Homo sapiens: one gene and its partners. The gene in region 1 interacts genetically with each later gene. Each region holds a gene or a part of one and is shown in the gene's direction. Other genes may lie near its edges. The genes, in order: CDK1, EBNA1BP2, GTF2E1, MTRES1, GPN3, PSMD1 and MRPS23.

Region 1 (3,933 bases):
GCTGGTGGCTCACGCCTGTAATCTCAGCACTTTGGGAGGCCAAGGCAGGAGGATTGCTGGAGCCTAGGAGTTGGAGACCAGCTAGGGCAACATAAGGAGACATTGTCTCCGCAAACAAACAGAAAAAAAAAAAGTAAGAAAGAAAGAGAGAAAGAAGGAAAGAACAAGAAAAAGGAAAAAAAAATTAACTGCAGTAAGTGCAGAAATCTCTCTCAAGGATATGATGGATGGCAATGAAGACAGAGTTTTTGACACTGGATTATTTAAAGCATAATTTAAGCCTCTTTCTCTCCCCTCATAGAATTGTGAATTTTTGTGTTTTAATTATATTTAAGCCAGGCGTGGTGGCGAGTGCCTGTAGTCGCAGCTGCGCTGGAGGCTGAGGCCGATTGCTTGAGCCCAGGATTTGGAGGCCAGCATGCGCAACATAATGAGACCCAGTCTCTAAATGCATGCCTCTCTCTATATATTTAAAATTCTGATGTGAAAATATTTTAAAATTTAATACATTTCAAATGTTTTTAATTGTATAATAAACAAAATGTAAATAATAAAATAATTTAATATTAAATTCAAAAATGAGGTAGAAACAAAGCACAGCGATATAAATAATAAATTTTCCTTTACATTTTTGAGGCGGTCTTTTGAGTTTTCCATTTCCTTCTTAAGGTCACTGAAATGTGCTCCTTGGAGCCAGCCCGCAAATCACGCATTTAGAAAAACATAACTATACACTCCTAACCCTAAGTATTAGAAGTGAAAGTAATGGAATCTCGATGTAAACACAATATCACTTTTTTGATGAGCTATTTTGAGTATAATAAATTTGAACTGTGCCAATGCTGGGAGAAAAAATTTAAAAGAAGAACGGAGCGAACAGTAGCTTCCTGCTCCGCTGACTAGAAACAGTAGGACGACACTCTCCCGACTGGAGGAGAGCGCTTGCGCTCGCACTCAGTTGGCGCCCGCCCTCCTGCTTTTTCTCTAGCCGCCCTTTCCTCTTTCTTTCGCGCTCTAGCCACCCGGGAAGGCCTGCCCAGCGTAGCTGGGCTCTGATTGGCTGCTTTGAAAGTCTACGGGCTACCCGATTGGTGAATCCGGGGCCCTTTAGCGCGGTGAGTTTGAAACTGCTCGCACTTGGCTTCAAAGCTGGCTCTTGGAAATTGAGCGGAGAGCGACGCGGTTGTTGTAGCTGCCGCTGCGGCCGCCGCGGAATAATAAGCCGGGTACAGTGGCTGGGGTCAGGGTCGTGTCTAGGGGACGGCCGAGGGCCTCGGAGGGCGAGTATTGAGGAACGGGGTCCTCTAAGAAGGCCGGACTGGAGGTCAGGGATCTGCGCGGGGCCCGGCTGGGCCTCGGGGGGCGGTGGGCAGGGCCTTCGCCTGGGTCTGGCCGTGTGAGCCACACTGGGCTGGCTTTAGAGGGAGGCTATGGGAGCCCAGCCTGGCGGGGTTAGGCGGCGTGGGGGTGGGGGTTCGGGGCTGCAGTCATGAGTCGAGGTCGGCTGTTCTCAGGAACTGCCTGAAGAGGCTTTCGGGTCTTGATTGAAGCAAAATCCGCTCCCCCACGCTGAGCGCCTGCGGAGTAGCAGGCTCTTTCCTGGGCCCGGCCCCTGCGCGCCCTGCCATCCCGCCTCGGGGGTGGGAAAGTGGGACCGCACCTGGGCCAGGTACAGGCGCGGGTCCCTAGAGCCAGGCCGCCCTGAGAAACCGATCCTGGAACTCGTGGGCCTTCTTGGGCTTGCTCTGCCCACGGCCCCGGCCCACCTGGAGCTGTTAAGAACAGTCAGCCCAGGCACTTAACTCTCATGAGCAGTGTAGTGCAGTTTTTTTCATTTAAAAAGATACATCTCTGCTTCTTTCTGGATTGATTTTTCTTTGAAGATGAATGTGAGAAATAGAACTTAAAGGTCTATTCTGAGTGTGCTTTATAAATGATTTTATCATCAGTGATGGGTGTTAGAAAAATCTAGGTAATTATGCCTGGAGTTCTGACGTTTCATTGGCAAACTTCAGAGGAAGTCTTGAACTTCTGGTTGTCAGCTTTTTTTTTTAACCCATTCATTGTGATTCAAGTATACCGTTTTTCTGCTTAGTCCTTGACATTGTTTAGGTTATAATTAGAATTTTATCTGTGGAATTGCACTTTTCATTCTTTTGTTTTACGGTGCTTAAGTGATATTTCCTACTCTTGGAAAAAGTACCTTGAAAGTCTTGAGCATGTTTGTCTGTGACCTCAGCAAGCAGAGGAAAAAGATTAAAATTGTCACGTGGGCAACTGTAAACACTTAAAATGTTTTTGTCGTTTTAAACAAAATTTTCCTAATGAACAGTCTGAACACATTTTAGTTCTGTCCTCATAACTTTAAAAAATAATGTTTTGAATAAAATTAGGAGTATCATAAAGCGGTATAAATTTGTTGAAATATTTGGGTATAACTTTGGCACACGCAGGTACTACTTTAAAGTGTCACAAAAAGGGAACATAATTCTGGTTTTTGTTTGGAAAGAATAGACAAGTTGATACCTGAATTTGAGGGTTATTTTGATTGGAAGAAGCTAAATACTACACTAGTATAGAATATACACGTTTCCAATGTCTCAGGAGTCAAGAAGGATGGAAAGTTATTGTAGGAGTCCTTACCCTTGTAAATATTGTTTGAATGTAATTAATATTTATGGAATACTTATGCTGCAGTAGGCACTGTGGAAAATGCTTTACATATAGTGTTTCATTAATGCTTAAAACTACTCGAGTTAGTGGCATGTAATTAAGTCAGTTTTTCCTTCACTTTAGGATCTACCATACCCATTGACTAACTATGGAAGATTATACCAAAATAGAGAAAATTGGAGAAGGTGAGTGGTTTTAGTAAAATAAATTTTATGGAATGATTTAACAATGCTACAACTTCTGTAATATGAACACATTTAAATATTTATTAAAATTCAACCATTAAGTTGTCTTGTAGTACCAGTGTGCATTAACATATGTTCTTTACTTAATAAACGCAAATTTGCTCACATTTCAAGAGAATTGAAATTACCGAATCCCTAATGACCGTTCGCCTCACCCCCATAGTCTTACAGTCTTCTGATACTAAACACTTATAGTAGTACTTGTATTTTGAAGACACTATTGATAACTTGCATGTGTGTTGAGGGGCAGAGGTTAGGGCTGCAGAATTATGCTAACTTCATAATATATTTTTAGTTTTAGTCTCTTTCAATTGTTTTTAGGATGATAAATATTTTTATCCAGACTTTATAGACTGGTTACAATAATTGACTTAATCTAATTTAAATAAAATTTCTATTTAGTTACCCTAAGTATAAATGACCTGTCATATAGACATGTTTAAGCTATTCTAAAATTATAACTTATGTATATAATCCTTCCCTTTCTGTGGTACTTGAAGGAATGTTTAGATCTATATATGGCACAAATGAGGGGTATATCCCTTCGCCTGTTCCTCGACTCCAGCAGAACATTCTCGATTCTCCAGGTACAAAATAATTTGCTAATAGAATCCAGTTTATATAGGTTCTGCCAGAAGAAAATTCCCAACTATATTTTTAATGTGATCAAAGACCCCACTTGACAAGAAATAGTGAAAAACAAGGGGGAATACTGGAGGGAATTTAGTGGAATAGGAGTGACAAGTTAGTGTGGTGTTCGATTGGAGGTGTGTGTGTGTATACATATATATATATATTTTTTTTTTAAATCACTTAAATACCTCATACCCATTCTACTAAACAAATTTTGCTGCTGAATTAAAAATATGTGATTAGTATGTCTAATGCTGTGTAGTGTGTTTCTTAAATTCCCAGAGAATTTGTGTTGGTTTTAGTTTGGCATAAAAAGAGACCTTCTTAAAGTATAAATATATTTTTCTTTAAGATGATAGAACTCCAAACATACAGGAGACTG
Region 2 (2,803 bases), on another chromosome or scaffold:
CTGGGCTACAAATAGGCAGTTTGTATAATGAAACAGACAGCACACTGGGAGCGGGAAGGTGACTTTCAATCTCTGGCTTCACTCTGGCACTTTTGGTAAAGTGCTCAGCCTGTGGGCCCCATTGTCCTCAGGGGTTGGAACTGATGATTTATAAGTTCCGCAGTTTAAAGAACAGGGAATATCTGTTCCCTGCTCTAGCGAATCCTAAGTAGTGGTCATTCCAGATTCAAATGACATGAACTGACAGCATTTTGTGTTGTAGATTCGACAGAAGCTGCAGACTAAACAGGCTGCCATGGAGAGGTCTGAAAAAGCTAAGCAACTGCGAGCACTTAGGAAATACGGGAAGAAGGTGAGAAGAAAAGTGTGCAGGGAACAGGAAGAGGCGGAGTGTGTGTTAGATGAGATTGCCGTGGTCTGACTTGGTCCCCTGAACTGAACGGAACTGTGTGTTGATCATGTATTTACCGTCTCTCAGTGTATGTGCTGGTATTCATGAGCACAATCTTGCCTGGACATGAGTGGTTCCCCAGGAGTAGTATGGTGACTGCAGGTGAGCCAATCACCTCTCTGGGCGTTAGTTTTCACATCTGTACACTGGGTCCAGATGAGTGGTTTCCAAACCTGACCTTATAGCAAAATCACCAGGGGAAATTTTTCAAAACAGAATTCTAGACTTCAGAATCCCCAGGAATCTGTGCCTGTTTTCCCCTCTTCCCCAAAAGCTTTCCAGGTGATTCTGAAATGCATCCTGGTTTGGGATTCACTGATCTATGTGATAATCACGTACCTGAAGAAATTATCATAATGATTGTCATCCAATCTGAAAGATTGCCTGCGTGTTTGAACTATGAATGTCTGAGTTCTAATGTAACACCAGATCAGGCATACCCTAAAACTTTTCTTGGTTTTCCTTTTTTATTTCATGGTCATCTAAGAAAGAAGATGACAGATTTTAAAGTTAGGATTGTGGGAAGAAATGAATGTGAGGAAGATTGGTGTGGGTGTTAAGACTTCGTCAACATTTGGACATAAGCACTTGTGATCTGGGCTGCAGAACTCTTGTCCACGTTTGGAGTCATTTCACTGATACATTCTCAGCAAAGTAGGAATAGGCTGGGATCCTGTCCTCTACAAAAGGCCTGCTGCGGATTTATTATTTCTTTGATCTGGAGGTGGATGGCTGAGATTCTCTCAAAGACACCAGTAATTAATTTAACATAGCCAAAGTTACCAAAAGCAAAGACAAACTCACTTGGGCCTATTAGTTCACTGTTCCTAATTTAAGGAAACACTGGGGAAGAGTTTGTTAACTGGGGGTGAATTTGCTCCCCAAGAGTTTTCTGTGACTGCCTGGAGATATTTTTAGTTGTCAAATTTGGGAGGGAGGGTACTACTGGCATCTAGTAGGTAGAGGGCAGGGGTGCCGCTAAATATCCTACAGTGTAGGACAGGCCCCTACCCCCCAGCAAAGAATTATTCTCTCCACACTGTAGCAGTATCAAGATTGAGAAACCCTCTGTTAGAGTATTATAAAGTGTCTCCTTTTATCCTTCAAACTTTTTTCTTTTCTTTACCTGGGGACATTGTTTTTTTCTCTTCCTTTTGGTACTTTCATGCCTAGTAACAGTGAGTTAGATAATTAATCTGTCCAAATGTGATGCGAAAAATCGATGTAGTCTTAAACATGATTTACTTCAGTTTTGTAGGCAGGATTGTATAATAGGGTGAGTGCTGGCTTTGGAGTCAAACAGCCTGGGTCATCTTGGCTGTGCATTTTTTCACTGTGCGACTTGGGCAAGTTAACTTCCCTGTGCTTCAGTTTAGGGGATAACACAAATTTCAACTTCACTGGATTGTTATGAGACAGATATATCTTCATCTATGAAGAATATACCTAGATCTGAGAATATACTTAGAGTCCCTAACACAGTTTTTGGCACGTAGTAAATGTCAGAGGGTAGTGGTATTAATCATGGTGTTGCTATTAAGACAATGTAGACACTGGAGTAATGGTATGGAATGGCTGTAACGGTCCTTGTGTTCATATCACAGGTGCAAACGGAGGTTCTTCAGAAGAGGCAGCAGGAGAAAGCCCATATGATGAATGCTATTAAGAAATATCAGAAAGGTTGGTACATCTCTAATAGGGGAACGAGGGTAGCAGGTACTTTAGAGTTGATTTGAACACTTAGTGCTTTGGAGCCTTCTTGGTTGATGTGGACCTGTCGGATCAAAGTTTTGGGAATGGTGTTGGAGAGCAGGATGTGACTCTTAAAATCAGTGTAGCAAATAACAGCCTCATATGGTGGTTTAAACTTTTATTCTTAAAATACAATGGTGCTGATCAAAACTACTTCTTCACTTACAGGCTTCTCTGATAAACTGGATTTCCTTGAGGGAGATCAGAAACCTCTGGCACAGCGCAAGAAGGCAGGAGCCAAAGGCCAGCAGATGAGGAAGGGGTGAGAAGGGTTTTGGCATGGTTTCTTTGGTTCTGTGAGGTGCGATGGGGCCACAGGTCACGAGTATGGCAGACATAGCACCTCCACCGGCGCAGCCATAGAGTCCAGAGAGTGCAGCTGCTGCCTGGGGCCAGGACCCCTATGACTGTGTGATGGGCCCTTTTAGCCATGTCAGTCTTTGAAGAGTAAAAGAAGGCACTTTTTAAACTTCTTTTTTTTTTGGACAGTCTCATTCTGTCACTCAGGCTACAGTGCACTGGTACAGTCTTGGCTCACTGCAACCTCTGCCACCTGGGCTCAAGTAATTCTGTGCCTCAGCCTCCTGAGTAGCTGGAACT
Region 3 (3,500 bases), on another chromosome or scaffold:
TGTTCTGACAACTGTTGAGGATGTAAAACAACAAAAAATGAAAACGGGGTTCAAGTACAATGTATAGACCAAACCGAAAAGGAGAGAAAAGTGTGTCCAGTAGTATGCTGTGGTACTACTTTGGTGTCGAGCCCAGGTACTTCCCAGGCATCCTTAAGCCCTGGGGTAGCAGGAAGGCTCTAAGTTCACAGATTTGGATCTAGGTGCTACTTTGTTATATCTTACAATATGTAGTCATACCTGAGTATTTATAACCTAAAGTACGTATTTTCTTTTGACTGACTTTTACTTTTCCTTTATTACAGGAAGGGCCTTATATTTTCCCCCCAAAATATATGCATAGATTGGTTATAGATTGGTGTATAGAGTTTCCTTATAGTATGGTACTGTGGATATAAAAATATTTCTTATAAAAAGAGTATTAAATCTGTTGGGTTGATAACCACTGATTTCAAATAAAAGGGTTAGTTGAAACTAGTATTAATAACAGAATATGATTCTCCATTGAAATAGTTCAATGGGATGTCTCTCTTAAAAATTATCCTGTGGAGCCTGGCTAAGATGGTGAAACCCTGTCTCTACTAAAAATTCAAAAATTAGACAGGCGTGGTGGTGCATGCCTATAGTCCCAGCAACTCAGGAGGCTGAGGCAGGAGGATTGCTTGAACCTGTGAGGCAGAAGTTGCAGTGAGCCGAGCTTGCGCCACTGCACTCCAGCCTAGGTGACAGATCGAGACCCTGTCTCCAAAAAAAAAAAAAATTATCCTGTGGGCTGGGTGTGGTGGCTCACATCTGTAATCCCAGCACTTTAGGAAGCCCCCAAGGTAGGTGGATCCCTTGAGCCCAGAAGTTCGAGACCAGCCTGGGCAAAATGGTGAAACCCTGTCACTACAAAAAACACAAAAATTAGTCAGTCATGGTGGTGTCCACCCGTAGTCTCAGCTACTGGGGAGTTTGAGGTGGGAAGATTGCTTGAGCCCAGGAGGTTGAGACTGCACTGAGCCAAGTCACACCACCGAACTCTAGTCTGGACAACAGAGCAAGACACTCTCTCTATGAAAAGAAAAACAAATTCCCTGTGGCCTAGGGAAATTTAACTTGATTTAATCTGTGTGGATAGTCTAGCCATTTTTAGTTTGGAACATGTTAAGTTGATATGGAAGCTGTCCTTCCTAAGCACTTTAATTATATTCTTATTAATCACAACAACTCCACTGAGGTAGTTGATACTATCCTTACTTCTTAGCGAGTAAAAGGTGGCTTGAAATTGTTTAAGGGATTTGCTCAGGATTACACAGTTACCAAAACACAGGCTGTGTACTCTGAATTTCAAAGCCCAGTTTTGTGTTGTTTTGTTTTTTTGTTTTGTTTTTTTTTGAGACTGAGTTTCGCTCTTGTTGCCCAGGCTGGAGTGCAATGGTGTAATCTTGGCTCACAGCAACCTCCACCTCCCGAAGCCCAGGTTTTTATTTTATTTTATTTTATTTTTTATTTTTATTATTTTTATTTTATTATTATTATACTTTAAGTTTTAGGGTACATGTGCACAATGTGCAGGTTAGTTACATATGTATACATGTGCCATGTTGGTGTGCTGCACCCATTAACTCGTAATTTAACATTAGGTATATCTCCTAATGCTATCCCTCCCCGCTCCCTCCTCCCCACAATAGGCCCCAGTGTGTGATGTTCGCCTTCCTGTGTCCATGTGTTCTCATTGTTCAATTCCCACCTATGAGTGAGATATATGCGGTGTTTGGTTTTTTGTTCTTGCGATAGTTTACTGAGAATGATGGTTTCCAATTTCATCCATGTCCCTACAAAGGACATGAACTCATCCTTTTTTATGGCTGCATAGTATTCCATGGTGTATATGTGCCACATTTTTTAATCCAGTCTATCCTTGTTGGACATTTGGGTTGGTTCCCAGTCTTTGCTATTGTGAGTAGTCCCGCAGTAAACATACGTGTGCATGTGTCTCTATAACAGCATGATTTATAGTCCTTTGGGTATATACCCAGTAATGGGATGGCTGGGTCAAATGGTATTTCTAGTTCTAGATCCCTGAGGAATCGCCACACTGACTTCCACAAGGGTTGAACTAGTTTATAGTCCCAACAACAGTGTAAAAGTCTGTTCCTATTTCTCCACATCCTCTCCAGCACCTGTTGTTTCCTGACTTTTTAATGATTGCCATTCTAACTGGTGTGAGATGGTATCTCATTGTGGTTTTGATTTGCATTTCTCTGATGGCCAGTGATGGTGAGCATTTTTTCATGTGTTTTTTGGCTGCATAAATGTCTTCTTTTGAGAAGTGTCTGTTCATGTCCTTCGCCCACTTTTTGATGGGGTTGTTTGTTTTTTTCTTGTAAATTTGTTTGAGTTCGTTATAGATTCTGGTTATTAGCCCTTTGTCAGATGAAAAGGTTGCAAAAATTTTCTCCCATTCTGTAGGTTGCCTGTTCACTCTGATGGTAGTTTCTTTTGCTGTGCAGAAGCTCTTTAGTTTAATTAGATCCCATTTGTCAATTTTGGCTTTTGTTGCCATTGCTTTTGGTGTTTTAGACATGAAGTCCTTGCCCATGCCTATGTCCTGAATGGTAATGCCTAGGTTTTCTTCTAGGGTTTTTATGGTTTTAGGTCTAACATTTAAGTCTTTAACCCGTCTTGAATTAATTTTTGTAAAAGGTGTAAGGAAGGGATCCAGTTTCAGCTTTCTCCATGTGGCTAGCCAGTTTTCCCAGCACCATTTATTAAATAGGGAATCCTTTCCCCATTGCTTGTTTTTCTCAGGTTTGTCAAAGATCAGATAGTTGTAGATATGCAGCGTTATTTCTGAGGGCTCTGTTGTGTTCCATTGGTCTATATCTCTGTTTTGGTACCAGTACCATGCTGTTTTGGTTACTGTAGCCTTGTAGTATAGTTTGAAGTCAGGTAGCGTGATGCCTCCAGCTTTGTCCTTTTGGCTTAGGATTGACTTGGCAGTGTGGGCTCTTTTTTGGTTCCATATGAACTTTAAAGTAGTTTTTTCCAATTCTGTGAAGAAAGTCATTGGTAGCTTCATGGGGATGGCATTGAATCTATAAATTACCTTGGGCAGTATGGCCATTTTCACGATATTGATTCTTCCTACCCATGAGCATGGAATGTTCTTCCATTTGTTTGTATCCTCTTTAAGTTCATTGAGCAGTGGTTTGTAGTTGTCCTTGAAGAGGTCCTTCACATCCCTTGTAAGTTGGATTCCTAGGTATTTTATTCTCTTTGAAGCAATTGTGAATGGGAGTTCACTCATGATTTGGCTCTCTTTTTGTCTGTTATTGGTGTATAAGAATGCTTGTGATTTTTGTACATTGATTTTGTGTCCTGAGACTTTTTGCTGAAGTTGCTTATCAGTTTAAGGAGATTTTGGGCTGAGACAATGGGGTTTTCTAGATATACAATCATGTCATCTGCAAACAGAGACAATTTGACTTCCTCTTTTCCTAATTGAATACCCTTTA
Region 4 (3,500 bases), on another chromosome or scaffold:
GTGAAACCCTGTGTCTACTAAAAATATAAAAAGTGGCCGGGTGTGGTGGTGGGCGCCTGTAATCCCAGCTACTCTGGAGGCTGAGGTGGGAGACTATGGCTTGAACTGGGGAGGCAGAGGTTGCAGTGAGCCAAGATCGCGCCACCCACTGCATTCCAGCCTGGGCAACAGAGGAAGACCCTGTCTCAAAAAAAAAAAAAAGAAAAAAAAAGAAAAAAGGAGAAGAGAAGGAGGCAGCAAAGGAGTCTTTTCTTTTTTTTTTTTTTGAGATAGAGTTTCGCTCCTGTTGCCCAGGCTGGAGTGCAATGGCTTCGGCTCACTGCAGCCTCCGCCTCCCAGGTTCAAGTGATTCTCCTGCCTCAACCTCCTGAGTAGCTAGGATTACAGATGCCTGCCATCGTGCCCAGCTATTTTTTTTTTTTGAGACGTCTCACTCTTGTTGTCCAGGCTGGAGTGCAATGGCGCAATCTCAGCTCACTGCAACCTCTGCCTCCCGGGTTCAAGCGGTTCTCGTGCCTCATCCTACTGAGTAGCTGGGATTACAGGCACGTGCCACCACATTCAGCTAATTTTTGTATTAGTAGTAGAGACAGGGTTTCTCCATGTTGGTCAGGCTGGTCTCGAACTCCCGACCTCAGGTGATCCACCCACCTCGGCCTCCCAAAGTGCTGGGATTACAGGCATGAGCCACCGTGTCCGGCCAGCAGAGGAGTCTTGAGAAGCAGCAGCCACAGGAGAGACAGGAAGAAAACCAAGAGTAAGGTGTCTTGGCGACCAAGTGAAGAAGAGAGGCGTGATCGGTTTTTTCAAGTGCTGCTGAGGAGTCAATTAAGATGAGGACTAACATGACCTTTTGGATTTAGAAAATGAAAGGAGTGGAATTGAGGAGAGTTAGACAACTGTTTTGAGAAGTTTTATGGTAAAGAGGAGCAAGAAAAGAGGTGGTAGCTGGGGAGGAGTGGAGGCAAGAGGTTTGTGTAATTGCTTGCTTTTGAATGAGACAAAAGTAACAGCATCCTCTCCTTTACTATAGCCACCCCCACGTTGATTCATTTCCTCACATATGCCAAGTGCCTGGCTAGGCCTTGGTAAAACACGCAATTCTTGTCATCAGGGAACTGCCATTTAAGTGGAATGTGGGCAAGTAAACTGACTGCCAGGGCACACATGTAAAAGCAGGTCCAGGGGAGGTTGAACCCTGCATCAGCTGGAGCTCAGAGCAAGAATGCCTGAGCTGGGTGCAGTGGATCACGCCTGTAATTCCAGCACTTTGGGAGGCCGAGGCAGGCGGATTACAAGGTTAGGAGTTCGAGACCAGCCTGGCCAACATAGTGAAACCCCATCTCTGCTAAAGATGCAAAAATTAGCCAGGCGTGGTGCCGTGTGCCTGTAGTCCCAGTTACTGGGGAGGCTGAGGCGGGAGAATTGCTTGAACCCAGGAGGCGGAGGTTGCAGTGAGCTGAGCACTGCACACCAGCCCGGGTGACAGTGCAAGACTCCATCTCAAAAAAATAAAAAAATGCCTGAGCATCCTTGAATGCTCATCCTCATTCATCCTTGAATGAGAGAAAAATAACAGCATGCCAATGGACTGGTCCATTATCAAGCAAAAAAATCACTGTTGTAACTTGATATTTCCCCATAGCTCGGTTTCAGGCCACCTTTGCTCTCAGAACTTTGTAGGCATCCTTGCTCTGCGCTCCAGCTGGTGCAGGGTTCAGCCTCCCCGGACCTGCTTTCACATCTGTGCCCTGGCAGTCAGTTTACTTGTCCACATTCCACTTAAATGGCAGTTCCCTGGTGACAAGGACTGTGTGTTTTATACCAAGGCCTACCCAGGAACTTGGCATATGTGGGCGAACGAGTGATTGTAGGGGTGGCTATAGTAATGGGCAGGATGCTCATTTCATTTCTAGAAATTGAATCTGCAACCATTCACTGGTTTTGGTATGTCCTGAGCAGAGGAGTGAAGAACAGGGCACTGTGTAGTCCCTATCACTACACTTAGAGTTTGGGAGATAATTTGTGACTTAATTCAAAAGTAACAAAAAAATGTGTAGTGTTGGTGCAACCAGAGTATGGAAAAGGGCATGTGGGGCATGGCTTGGTAGAGGAGGATGTGACTCGTGTGGAGTCTGGAGGAAGAGGAGACCATGACAAAGGGACAGGAATTTTTCAGTAGTAGATTTTTTTTTTTTTTCAAGTGAGCTATAAGGAACCCAGTATTCTCCAGTGCTGCTTTGGCTTGAGAGGAGCTGGGTGCCTGGTTAGCTTTCTTCTCTGGCACCCCCACTTCCAACTCAGGGCTCCCCTGACCAGTTTCAAAGTCCTGAGGCAGGGCCGGGCACGGTGGCTCACGCCTGTAATCCCAGCACTTTGGGAGGCTGAGCTGGGCAGATCACGAGGTCAGGAGATCAAGACCATCCTAGCTAACATGGTGAAACCCCGTCTCTACCAAAGATACAAAAAATTAGCCGGGCGTGGTGGCGGGTGCCTGTACTCCCAGCTACTTGGGAGGCTGAGGCAGGAGAATGGCAGGAACCTGGGAGGCAGAGCTTGCAGTGAGCTGAGATTGTACCAATGCACTCCAGCCTGGGCGACAGAACAAGACTCCGTCTCAAAAATAATAATAATAATAACAAAGTTCTGAGGCAGAATCTGGGTCCTCCCTTGTGACCCTGAGTGCCCACTGCTAACAACTACAAATGGTCATCATCTCCAGCAAGAATTAGCTTAATGTGTTTCCTCAATTTTATGTTTTTAATGAATTTTATCTAAGCTTCCAACATTTGCCAATGTTTGCCTGCTAGAAAGTTAAGCTGATCACAATGAGAGGTAGTGAGTAGCTAATAAACACAAGGGAATACGTGGCTTGACATTTTGGTATGTTTGTTGAATTTACAAGTGCACCTGATTCTAAATAGTTATTTTCTGCAAGGAAAGGTTTCCTAATGCAGGTAGCAGAGAGCCACATCATATCTAGGCATTCCTCAAAGTAAACAACGGTACGGTATAAAGCTAGGACTTTTCTCAAAGTCAGGAAAAGAGTGTAAAAAAGATACTGAAAAACATAAAAATAGAACTTATGGATGGGGAGTGTGGGCACCCAGGGTCTGACACAGAAACAGGACTACTTCCCTTCCCTAGGTGTCTCCTCTTAGGATATTTTCTAAGTTGGGGCAACAGTTCCTCCCACTCTTCTACCCCTGAAAACTATCTGTTCTCTCTGGTATTGCACTGGTTGGTGAGTTTTTATTCCAGAAAAAAAAAAGGAAAATAGATGTCAGGGTGTGGAAGAAAGAGTGCTTAACTTGGAGTCAGAACACTGATGGACAGTTCAGCATGGTAGTAATGAGTCTAGGCTTTGCAGCTCGGATGCCTAGATTTGAAGAGTATCTGTGTGACCCTATAACTGAGATGGGCTTGTCGCAAGGAACAAATGAGTTAACGTGTAGAGCAATGCCTGGCCCACGGTGAAAACAATGAGCTTTAAGGAGACT
Region 5 (3,136 bases), on another chromosome or scaffold:
CCTCCCACCTTAGCCTCCCAAAGTGCTGGGATTACAGGTGTGTGAACCATGGCATCTGGCCAATAACACTCATATTGATTGGCAGAAAACTAAAGTGTGAAGAACCTCATTTTCTTTCTTTCTTTCTTTTTTTTTATTTTTAAAGACAGAGTCTTACTCTGTCGCCCAGGCTGGAGTGCAGTGGCGTGATCTTGGCTCACTGCAGCCTCCTCCTCCCGGGTTTAAGCAATTCTTGTGCCTCAGCATCCCACAGGCGCGCACCACCACGCCTGGCTAATTTTTGTGTATTTTTAGTAGAGATGGGGTTTCACTATGTTGGTCAGGCTGGTCTTGAACTCCTGGCCTCAAGTGATCCACCTGCCACAGCCTCCCAAAGTGCTGGGATTACAGGCATGAGCCACCCTGCCCAACCAGAGAACCTCATTTTCTACATAAAACTTAATAGTTAGGGATTCCTATGGTGGCAGTACCTTAGGTTTTATGATTGCTTTGAGAGGCTGTGGGCCCCTTAAAAATGTGTTGGCTTTTATTTTTGTCCATCTTATGGGGAAAATTTGTTTCCTCTAACTTGATGATTTAACATACTTGCTATTTCTAAAATTCTTGCAATACTCTTCATGTAGGTCAGATTGAGTTGTACACTCACCTGCCTGTGATGAAACAGCTGGTCCAGCAGCTCGAGCAGTGGGAGTTCCGAGTCTGTGGAGTTTTTCTTGTTGATTCTCAGTTCATGGTGGAGTCATTCAAGGTCTGAAGCTAAATCTCTTACAGATTTTTTTTTTTTTTTTTTTTTTTTTTTTGTGTGTGTGACAGAGTCTTACTCTGTTGCCTAGGCTGGAGCGCAGTGGCGTGATCTCAGCTCACTGCAACCTCCGCCTCCCAGTTCAAGTGATTCTTGTGCCTCAGCCTCCTGAGTAGCTGGAATTACAGGTGTGTGCCATCATGCCTGGCTAATTTTTGTATTTTTAGTAGAGACGGGGTTTTACCATGTTGGCCAGGCTGGTCTCAAACTCCTGACCTCAAACATCAAGTGATCCACCTGCCTTGGCCTCCCAAAGTTCTCTTAAAGATTTTTAAACTATGAGTTCAAGCAGATGACAGTTCCTTTAATTATTGTGTGATTCTGAACATTTCACAAATGATTCCAGAGTTACTTTATCCCTTTTATTATTAAATTATAACATGTTGTTAATCAAAAATAGTAAATTATTATATCATAGAGATTTAGGAGGAACTGCTTACCAAGAAAAAAACTGAGGTTGCTGGGTGAAGTGGTTCACAGCTATAATCTTAGCACTTTGGGAGGCCAAGGCAGGAGGATTGCTTGAGCCCAAGAGTTTCGGACCTGCTTGGGCAACAGAGTGAGACCCTGTCTCTACAAAAAATATAAAAATTAGCTAGACGTTGTGGCACATGCCTGTAGTCCCAGCTACTTGGGAAGCTGAAGTGGGAGGATCGCTTGAGTACAGGAAGCAGAGGTTGCAGTGAGCCAAGATCGCCAAGATCGCACCATTGCACACCAGCCTGAGTGACAGAGTGAGACTCTGTCTCAAAAAAAAAAAAAAAGAGGAAGTAGTGGGGGAGAAAAAACTGAAGCAGATGGCTATTTTATAAAATAGTCTATTTTTAATTTTCTGAGGACCTTTTGTCCAGTTTATGAACTACCAAGATCAAATTTTTTATTAATAGCTCTTAAGGAATATTAGATGGGAAAGGAAATTAAAATGCTGTCTAAATTGAAATTTGTGATCACTGTATGTTATCTATATCTTCCCTCACCTTTGGGAACCAAGAATCAAGCATTTGATTCCCAATGATTTGGGAACATTTTTTTCTATATGGCTAGCATTACTTTTAATAAAATATAAATAATTTTGCCTTTTCCACATGTTCTGAACTGGCATTTCTTTTTTTTTTTTTTTTTTTTTGAGACCAAGTTTTGCCGTTGTTGCCCAGGCTGGAATGTGGTGGCGCAATCTTGGCTCACGGGAACCTCCGCCTCCTGGGTTCAAGTGATTCTCCTGCCTCAGACTCTTGAGTAGCTGGGATTACAGGCACATGCCACCATGCCTGGCTAATTTTGTATTTTTAGTAGAGACAAGGTTTCACCACGTTGGCCAGGCTGGTCTTGAACTCCTGACCTGAGGTGATCTGCCCGCCTCAGCCTCCCCAAGTGTTGGGATTACAGGCATGAGCCACCACGTCCAGCTTGCATTTCTTTTATTTAGGCCAGTTCTGTTCCAGTGAGGAATAGAAGACTCTTTATGCAGACCAGGTAACTGTTGGCAACAGTCAGTTCATCTTCCCTTTTCTGTTTCCTCCTTCAGTTTATTTCTGGCATCTTGGCAGCCCTGAGTGCCATGATCTCTCTAGAAATTCCGCAAGTCAACATCATGACAAAAATGGATCTGCTGAGTAAAAAAGCAAAAAAGGAAATTGAGAAGTGAGTTCACTGTTCTTCCATTATTATCAGATCTCAGTTGCAGAGATGAACCTTCTGTTTTATTTAGATGGGAAGTTTGGCTGGTTTATAAACCTAGTCTCCTGAATTCATCAGTCTTTCTGTCTTTTAAAGATTTTTAGATCCAGACATGTATTCTTTATTAGAAGATTCTACAAGTGACTTAAGAAGCAAAAAATTCAAGAAACTGACTAAAGCTATATGTGGACTGGTAAGCTTTTAAAGTTTGGATTTTTTGGCCAGGTGCAGTGGCTAATGCCTGTAACCCTAGCACTTTGGCAGGCCAAGGCAGCAAGATTGAGTCCAGGAGTTCAAGACCAGCCTGGGCAACATAGTGACACCCTATCTCTAAAAAAATTTTTTAAATTAGGCCAGGTGCAGTGGCTCACACCTGTAATCCTAGCACTTTGGGAGGCCAAGGCAGGCTGATCATTTGAGATCAGGAGTTCAAGACCAAGCCTGGCCAACATGGTGAAACCCTGTCTCTACTAAAAATACAAAAAAAAATTAGCTGGGCATGGTGGTGTGCGCCTGTAATCCTAGTACTCGGGAGCCTGAGACAGGAGAATCACTTGAACTCGGGAGGCGGAGGTTGCAGTGAGTTGAGATCATGCCACTGCAGTCCAGCCTGGGCGACAGAGTAAGACTTTGTCTCAAAAACAAAAAAAAATTAGG
Region 6 (3,500 bases), on another chromosome or scaffold:
ATGTATGGAGTGTAGAGTATTTGATTTAGTTCTGGTCCATGGCCAGAGGCTGAGTTTCCAAGCCAGGACAACCATGTAACCAGTTAGTCATAAGTGAAACCAAACCAGAGAATATAAAAATCCATCTCCCTTTTTGGTAAAAGCCGTTCAAATACATTGACTGAGGATAGGTAGCAGTTTTAGTATTAAGTGTTCTGTTATTTAAGATCTGTTCTACATTTAAAGCATTCTGGCCTGTCATCTTACTCCACATCACTAGTTTGCAATTTTTTCTTTTTCACTGATTGAATTTTGAAATTTATCTGTTCCCTGTGCTGTCCATTCAGAATCTCTGTTCTGGACTTGTCATACCAACCTAGAGTACCAAGAGGTTCTTTATATCTGCTTTTATGCTACTTTAGTTTTGCTTGGTAAATTTTGTATCTTTTCCTGTGTGGCTTCCTAAAGATTGCTTAAGCTATTTGGCAAACCTATACTTGTCAATTAGAAATGGCTACATCTAACTAAGTTGCCTTGACACTTTTTAATCAAACCACAGTTTCAACTCGGTGTTCTGGAATGATTTTAAAACCCACATGGAAAGCATTTGAGAGTGGTTTCCTTTGTGGTCTTAGTACAATAATTTCCCATATCATTTTTCCAATAATCCCTTTGACCTTTGACTATATTTCAAGGTGTGTTCTTTTGGAGAGGACAATTATTCCTTTTACTCTCCTATGTTAGTGGTAATACCTTGAGGCTAAGAGAAGCCATATGGAGAACACTGTGCTTGGGTAATTGAATTCAGAATGAGTATGATTGTTCATCATTTGGTAAAACCCAGGTTACTTGTGATAGGAAAGAGGTGCCATAATATACACACCTTGAAATAATTGAAGTATTTTACCTTGTTGATTTGATGACTAAATGCTCCCATTTTTGTAAATAATCTTATAACTGTTGATTTATTTTGTATGAATAATTTTATTCTAAAATTGTATAGGAAAGTTTCCCATTTTAATCAGTAAATTAGGCCAATGGTTCTCAAACTATAGAGAGCAAAAGAATCACAGTACTGGGCCCCATCCTCATAATTTGTGATTCAGTAGGTCTGGAATGGGGCCGAGAATGTGTATTTCTAACAGGTTCCCAGGCAATGCTGTTAGTCCAGGGAACACACTGAAAACCATTGAATTAGGCAAATGATGTAATATATGTGGTGCCATGAGGGTTTGATAATATAGTTAAGTCTTAAACTTGAGATATAAACCTTTACACTTTCAAAGAAAAATAATCATTCCCCTGGAGAAGTTACGCCTCAAAAAAATTGTTTTTCAGCCATCATGTATTTTTGACCAGGTGTTAATTTCCACTTTAGTGAGAATGTGTTTCATAATCATGTTACATCTTTTTTCTCATAGCTGGAATTATTTCTCTTCTGGATGAAGATGAACCACAGCTTAAGGTATGAATTGAAGAATAAGTAACTAGGCTTAGTGTGAATACTGTGAAGCCTTTTGAATTTAGTGATATCTGTAATCTTCCATCATTTAAAGTTGCTGTCCTAGCTGGCTTGTACCCAGTTACTGTAACCTAGCCAGAGAGGACAGTATTTTGGCCACAGCAGTTGGTTTCCCTTGAGTTTAACAAAGCTAAGACAAATAAACCTCGTTACGACACTTGAATAGCCCCCTAATTTCTTTCTTTTTTTTCTTTTTTTAATCTTTTTTCTTTTTTGAGACAGAGTCTCGCTTTATCACCCAGGCTAGAGTGCAGTGTGTGGTCATGGTTCACTGCAGCCTTGACCTCCTACACTCAAATGATCCTCCCACCTCAGCCTCCCAAGTAGCTAGGACTGTAGGCATGCACCACCACACTCAGCTAATTTTTAAATTTTTTGTTGTGATGGGGTCTCACTGTGTTGTCCAGGTTGATCTCAAACTCCTGCTCCTGGGCTCAAGTGATCCCCCCGCCTTGACCTCCCAAAGTACTGGGATTACGGGTCTGAGCCACCACACCTTCCGCTTCCCCCGCCCCAGTTTCATTATCAACAGAAAACACAAAAAGTTGTTGCTTCTGTTTCACATATTTAAAGTTTTTTATTTGATGAAAATTTGGAATGTCCTTCTGGTGGCTCTAGATACTTGATTCCTTTACATCTAAACCAGCAACCTGGAGTTAATTGTTTATATTCAAAGAAGAAAAATGTTGATGATTGAAAACAGAAAAGAAATGTGTAAACTCAAGAAAAAGTGTAAGTTGGTAAATTTTTATATTTGTCATAGAGTAAAAGTTTGAGTAAATATTACTGAGGATTTGATCATTGATTTGCTGAAAAGAATTTTTTAAGGAAGTGTAATGATAAGTCTATCTCAAAATAGGATTTTGGTTATCTTTTACAGGAATTTGCACTACACAAATTGAATGCAGTTGTTAATGACTTCTGGGCAGAAATTTCCGAGTCCGTAGACAAAATGTAAGAAATTATTTTTATAAATCAGAATAAGATGGATCAAATTTAATTGTGAATGTGGGTCTTGTGGCTTATTGATTCATTTAGAAATTTGCTGTTAACTGAATTGTGGCTTGAATATTTAGATTTGGGATTTTTAGGGAAAACCACAGTTTGAACTAGACCTGTACTTCCTAATTTCTTTCAGAGAGGTTTTATACGAAGATGAAGGTTTCCGGAGTCGGCAGTTTGCAGCCTTAGTGGCATCTAAAGTATTTTATCACCTGGGGGCTTTTGAGGAGTCTCTGAATTATGCTCTTGGAGCAGGGGACCTCTTCAATGTCAATGATAACTCTGAATATGTGGAAACTATTATAGGTAATTATCGTCTATCTGGTAAGGCTTTATCTTGTCGGCTTCTTTCTTGCTGTAGTGCACATAGAAGCTTTTTTCCTGAATTTGATGTTGCCAAATTTCATTTTAATTGGAAGTTCCTAATCTTTCTATAATAATTTTATGCAGGCTGAGTTTTTAGATCTGCCCTTCAACTGAGTGCTGGTTCTCAGTGGTTATGATGATCACCAGTCCAGTGAGCCTACTGTTAGAGGAAAAGATTAAATCAGATTAGTATGAGTAACAAGTGGTACCAGTTTGTGTAGTTTTTTCGAATACAGGAAACCATTATTTAGTATCTGCATTGTGCTAGGCACCGTGCTAGTCACTCTGCATACCATGGTTTATTCCACAGCTACCCCATGAGGAAGGAGCTAGCCGTTTTACAGATGAGACAACTTGGATTTTGAGATGATAAAGACATGGTTATTAAATAGAAGGATAAAATTTAAAACCTGGTTTTACTCACTCTAAAACCCATACTGTTTCTATTTGTAACCGTTGTTTTCTTACTTGTTTCCTTATTTTTGAAGGAAGGGGATAACACACAGGCAAGGCTTTGAATTTTCTGACACATATTTCAACCAGAGTTGTAAATTCAACTAGTTATGTAAGATTTGATACAAAGATTTTATAGTGTAAAAAAATGCTTGAAAACTGTTGATGTAGTAAATGA
Region 7 (2,882 bases), on another chromosome or scaffold:
GTGCTAAATTTTTCACTCAGTGACAGAATGTGCCTAGTTATATATCTTTAGCGAATTAATTGAGTGAAAATGATAACATCTCTGTGATACTTAAATCTGGTCTTTTAAGCAACACGGAGGTAGTCACGTTTCCCGGAAATCCGAACACTTGAGTGTCAGACCACAGACTGCGTTGGAAGAAAACGAGACTCAGAAAGAAGTTCCACAGGACCAGCATTTGGAGGCACCTGCAGACCAGTCGAAAGGTCTCTTGCCTCCCTGAAGGACCTGTATACTGTGTATGCTGGCATTCACACTCTACTCACTGGCTGAATGTTGAGCTATTTTTAAACAGTTGAACTGTGTAAATGTTTCTTGATCTCTAAGGTATTATGTTTGCCTTCTCTTAGTTATTTCTGGGTTGTCACAAAGCTCAGTATCATGGTTTGACAGAAGCAGTTATGTGAACTTTTATGTTAGGACATTACTAAATAAAGAATTCCCTAGCTGCTTATAAAGTAAATTTACTTTGAATTGTAAATAACATGAAGAAACCTTTATAAAGATTGTTCAAATGGGACTCAATCTGACTAGGCTTGCTTTGATGTTTGTTAGTATGTGGGCTGGCTACATCTGATTCCCGGGTACATATTTCTTCTGATCCATCAGACTTATACGTGTACACATGTTGTGGAACCTTGGCTAGCTGGTTTTGTCTGCAGAGAATCTTTGTACTTCTTGCTATAGAACGATTATCTCTCCACTTGAGAGGCCAAGCTGACTTGCGCTTTGTGGTAAGAGTGAGGACCTGTCATTGCTGATACACAAAGACCAAAACTGTAACTTTAATGTCATGGATTGAGTGTGCTGGAGACAGTTAACATAGGCCTGCACAGACTAGGCTGTTCAGTAAATACTTGTTGAATGAATGAGTGAACGAATGGTTATATCCAGCTAAAGACTGGATTCATATGGTGTAGATAACAGGATTGCCAAGAAAGGAGGCAGCTAATTTAGGTGATGCTCTCCACCAGCATCCACCTGCCTCCCTGGGGCCAAAGTGTGCCTACAAGTCCTTATCAACTTCCCTGCCTTCCTCGTTTCCCCAGGTTTTACTAAATACATGAAATATCCCTCTGAGATTGCAGCCTTTGTATATGTGGTCAAGCCAGTGGTTTTTAGCTGTTAGTAGTAAGCTGCTTCAGAAATTCCCTATTTTAAAACTCATGTAGATTTTCTACCCAGTGATTCTTTGTGTATGCTCTCATCTCTCCTGGTACACTGTGAGGCAGGTCCACATCTCACAGTCTGTATATAGTACACATCCATGCACGTGGGTGCTTGGTTCATGCAGGTGAATGAATACATTAGGCAAAAGCAGCTCTCAGCCATGCTGCTTCCCCCTCGACCTTTATCACTGTTTCACAACTGCTTGCATTTGGAGAATGCTTTACTTTTCCGTAGGGAAGTAAATTTCATCCATTCAGAGACATTACACAACCATTGAGACCAAACATCGGGCCAGACCTTGGGAAGAGGACTTAAAAAGCAGGTGAAAGACACAGTCTATTCTCAGAGGAACAATTGAGGGGTCACTCATCTCTTTAAACCTTAGGTTTCTGGTTTTTTAAGGGCAGGTTTTTTTTGCCACAATGATGAATATTTAAAAAATGTTTTTTTCCTTCATGTCTGGATTGATGTCCCATTTTTGCTATTTTTGTTTGTTTTCCTCCTCTGTAGATTTTTAATTTTTTTTTTTTTTTTTTTTTTTTTTTTGCGATGGAGTATCACTTTGTTTCCCAGGCTGGAGTACAGTGGAGCCATCTTGGCCCACTGCAACCTCCGCCTCCCAGGTTCAAGCAGTTCTTCTGCCTCAGCCTCCCAAGTAGCTGGGATTACAGGTGTATGCTATGACGCCCGGCTAATTTTTGTATTTTTAGTAGAAACGGGCTTTTAACCATGTTGCCCAGGCTGATCTCAAACTGCTGGCCTCAAGTGATCCACCCATCTCAACCTCCCAAAATGCTGGGATTACGGGTGTTAGCCACCATGCCTGGCCTTAATTTTTTTTTTTTTTAATTTTGTTTTAGGAGATGGGGGTCTCACTGTGTTACCCAGGCTGGGTGCAGTGGTGCATACCCTGCCGCAGTCTTAACTCCTGGGCTGAAGCCATCCTGGCTCACTTCCCGAATAGCTAGGACTATAGGCATGTGCCACCACGCCTGGCTCTTTAACATTTTTTTTGTTTGTTTTTTTTTGTAGAGATGGAGTCTTGCTATGTTGCCCAGGCTGGCCTGGTCTCAAACTCCTGGCCTCAAGCGATCCTCCTGCCTCAGCCGCCCAAAGTGCTGGGATTACAGGCCTGAGCGACCGTACTGGGGCTGAAGACTTTTAAAGAAGTTATTTGTTGCATAATTCTTTAAAAAAATTATACATGCACATGGTTCAAAACTTAACAGTAAAAAGCTAGTCTCCCACCCCTGTTCCCCAGCCACCCTTTTCCCCTTCCCTGAGGCCATCACTATCACCATTTCCTTGTGCGCTCTTCCAGAAATATTTTGGGCATGGACAGGACACTATGCATACTGTTCTGTACCTTGCTTTTCTAGTTACTATGTCTCAGAGATCCACTGTGATTTAATCAGTGCCCGATTGAAGAAAATGTTCTTTGTTTTACTGTGTTGCAAATGGGCTGCTAGAGTTATGGGATGCTGGATCAAGGAGCAGATCATTTTGAGTTTTGATATCTTCGTCCATAGAAATTGTGCTTAACTATACTCTCATAGCAATGTATGAGAATGCGTTCCCCTACACATTCTGATCTTGTTAAACCAGACTGGGACTCTGGACCAGAAGGGAAAGACCATCCCTGTATAGCAAATATCTGGATGGGGAGAAAGCTG

The links.
Region 2: changes in CDK1 (region 1) and EBNA1BP2 together harm fitness less than expected from each alone (positive genetic interaction), as found in Homo sapiens cells (one large-scale study listed by BioGRID).
Region 3: changes in CDK1 (region 1) and GTF2E1 together harm fitness less than expected from each alone (positive genetic interaction), as found in Homo sapiens cells (one large-scale study listed by BioGRID).
Region 4: changes in CDK1 (region 1) and MTRES1 together harm fitness more than expected from each alone (negative genetic interaction), as found in Homo sapiens cells (one large-scale study listed by BioGRID).
Region 5: changes in CDK1 (region 1) and GPN3 together harm fitness less than expected from each alone (positive genetic interaction), as found in Homo sapiens cells (one large-scale study listed by BioGRID).
Region 6: changes in CDK1 (region 1) and PSMD1 together harm fitness less than expected from each alone (positive genetic interaction), as found in Homo sapiens cells (one large-scale study listed by BioGRID).
Region 7: changes in CDK1 (region 1) and MRPS23 together harm fitness less than expected from each alone (positive genetic interaction), as found in Homo sapiens cells (one large-scale study listed by BioGRID).

Annotation. Positions count from the first base shown.
Region 1 is NC_000010.11:60,777,345-60,781,277, forward strand, and holds the start of CDK1 (cyclin-dependent kinase 1), read left to right. Parts: upstream 1-1,133; 5' UTR 1,134-1,226; exon of another isoform or gene 1,227-1,324; intron 1,325-2,796; 5' UTR 2,797-2,821; coding exon 2,822-2,858; intron 2,859-3,933. UniProt on the Homo sapiens protein: Plays a key role in the control of the eukaryotic cell cycle by modulating the centrosome cycle as well as mitotic onset; promotes G2-M transition via association with multiple interphase cyclins.
Region 2 is NC_000001.11:43,166,488-43,169,290, reverse strand, and holds part of EBNA1BP2 (probable rRNA-processing protein EBP2), read left to right. Parts: intron 1-262; coding exon 263-352; intron 353-2,055; coding exon 2,056-2,131; intron 2,132-2,371; coding exon 2,372-2,465; intron 2,466-2,803. UniProt on the Homo sapiens protein: Required for the processing of the 27S pre-rRNA.
Region 3 is NC_000003.12:120,745,744-120,749,243, forward strand, and holds part of GTF2E1 (general transcription factor IIE subunit 1), read left to right. Parts: intron 1-3,500.
Region 4 is NC_000006.12:107,031,199-107,034,698, forward strand, and holds part of MTRES1 (mitochondrial transcription rescue factor 1), read left to right. Parts: intron 1-3,500. UniProt on the Homo sapiens protein: Mitochondrial RNA-binding protein involved in mitochondrial transcription regulation. Functions as a protective factor to maintain proper mitochondrial RNA level during stress.
Region 5 is NC_000012.12:110,455,122-110,458,257, reverse strand, and holds part of GPN3 (GPN-loop GTPase 3), read left to right. Parts: intron 1-623; coding exon 624-748; intron 749-2,327; coding exon 2,328-2,443; intron 2,444-2,575; coding exon 2,576-2,672; intron 2,673-3,136. UniProt on the Homo sapiens protein: Small GTPase required for proper localization of RNA polymerase II (RNAPII). May act at an RNAP assembly step prior to nuclear import.
Region 6 is NC_000002.12:231,059,867-231,063,366, forward strand, and holds part of PSMD1 (26S proteasome non-ATPase regulatory subunit 1), read left to right. Parts: intron 1-1,400; coding exon 1,401-1,444; intron 1,445-2,381; coding exon 2,382-2,455; intron 2,456-2,639; coding exon 2,640-2,809; intron 2,810-3,500. UniProt on the Homo sapiens protein: Component of the 26S proteasome, a multiprotein complex involved in the ATP-dependent degradation of ubiquitinated proteins.
Region 7 is NC_000017.11:57,837,163-57,840,044, reverse strand, and holds part of MRPS23 (small ribosomal subunit protein mS23), read left to right. Parts: intron 1-109; coding exon 110-262; 3' UTR 263-2,882.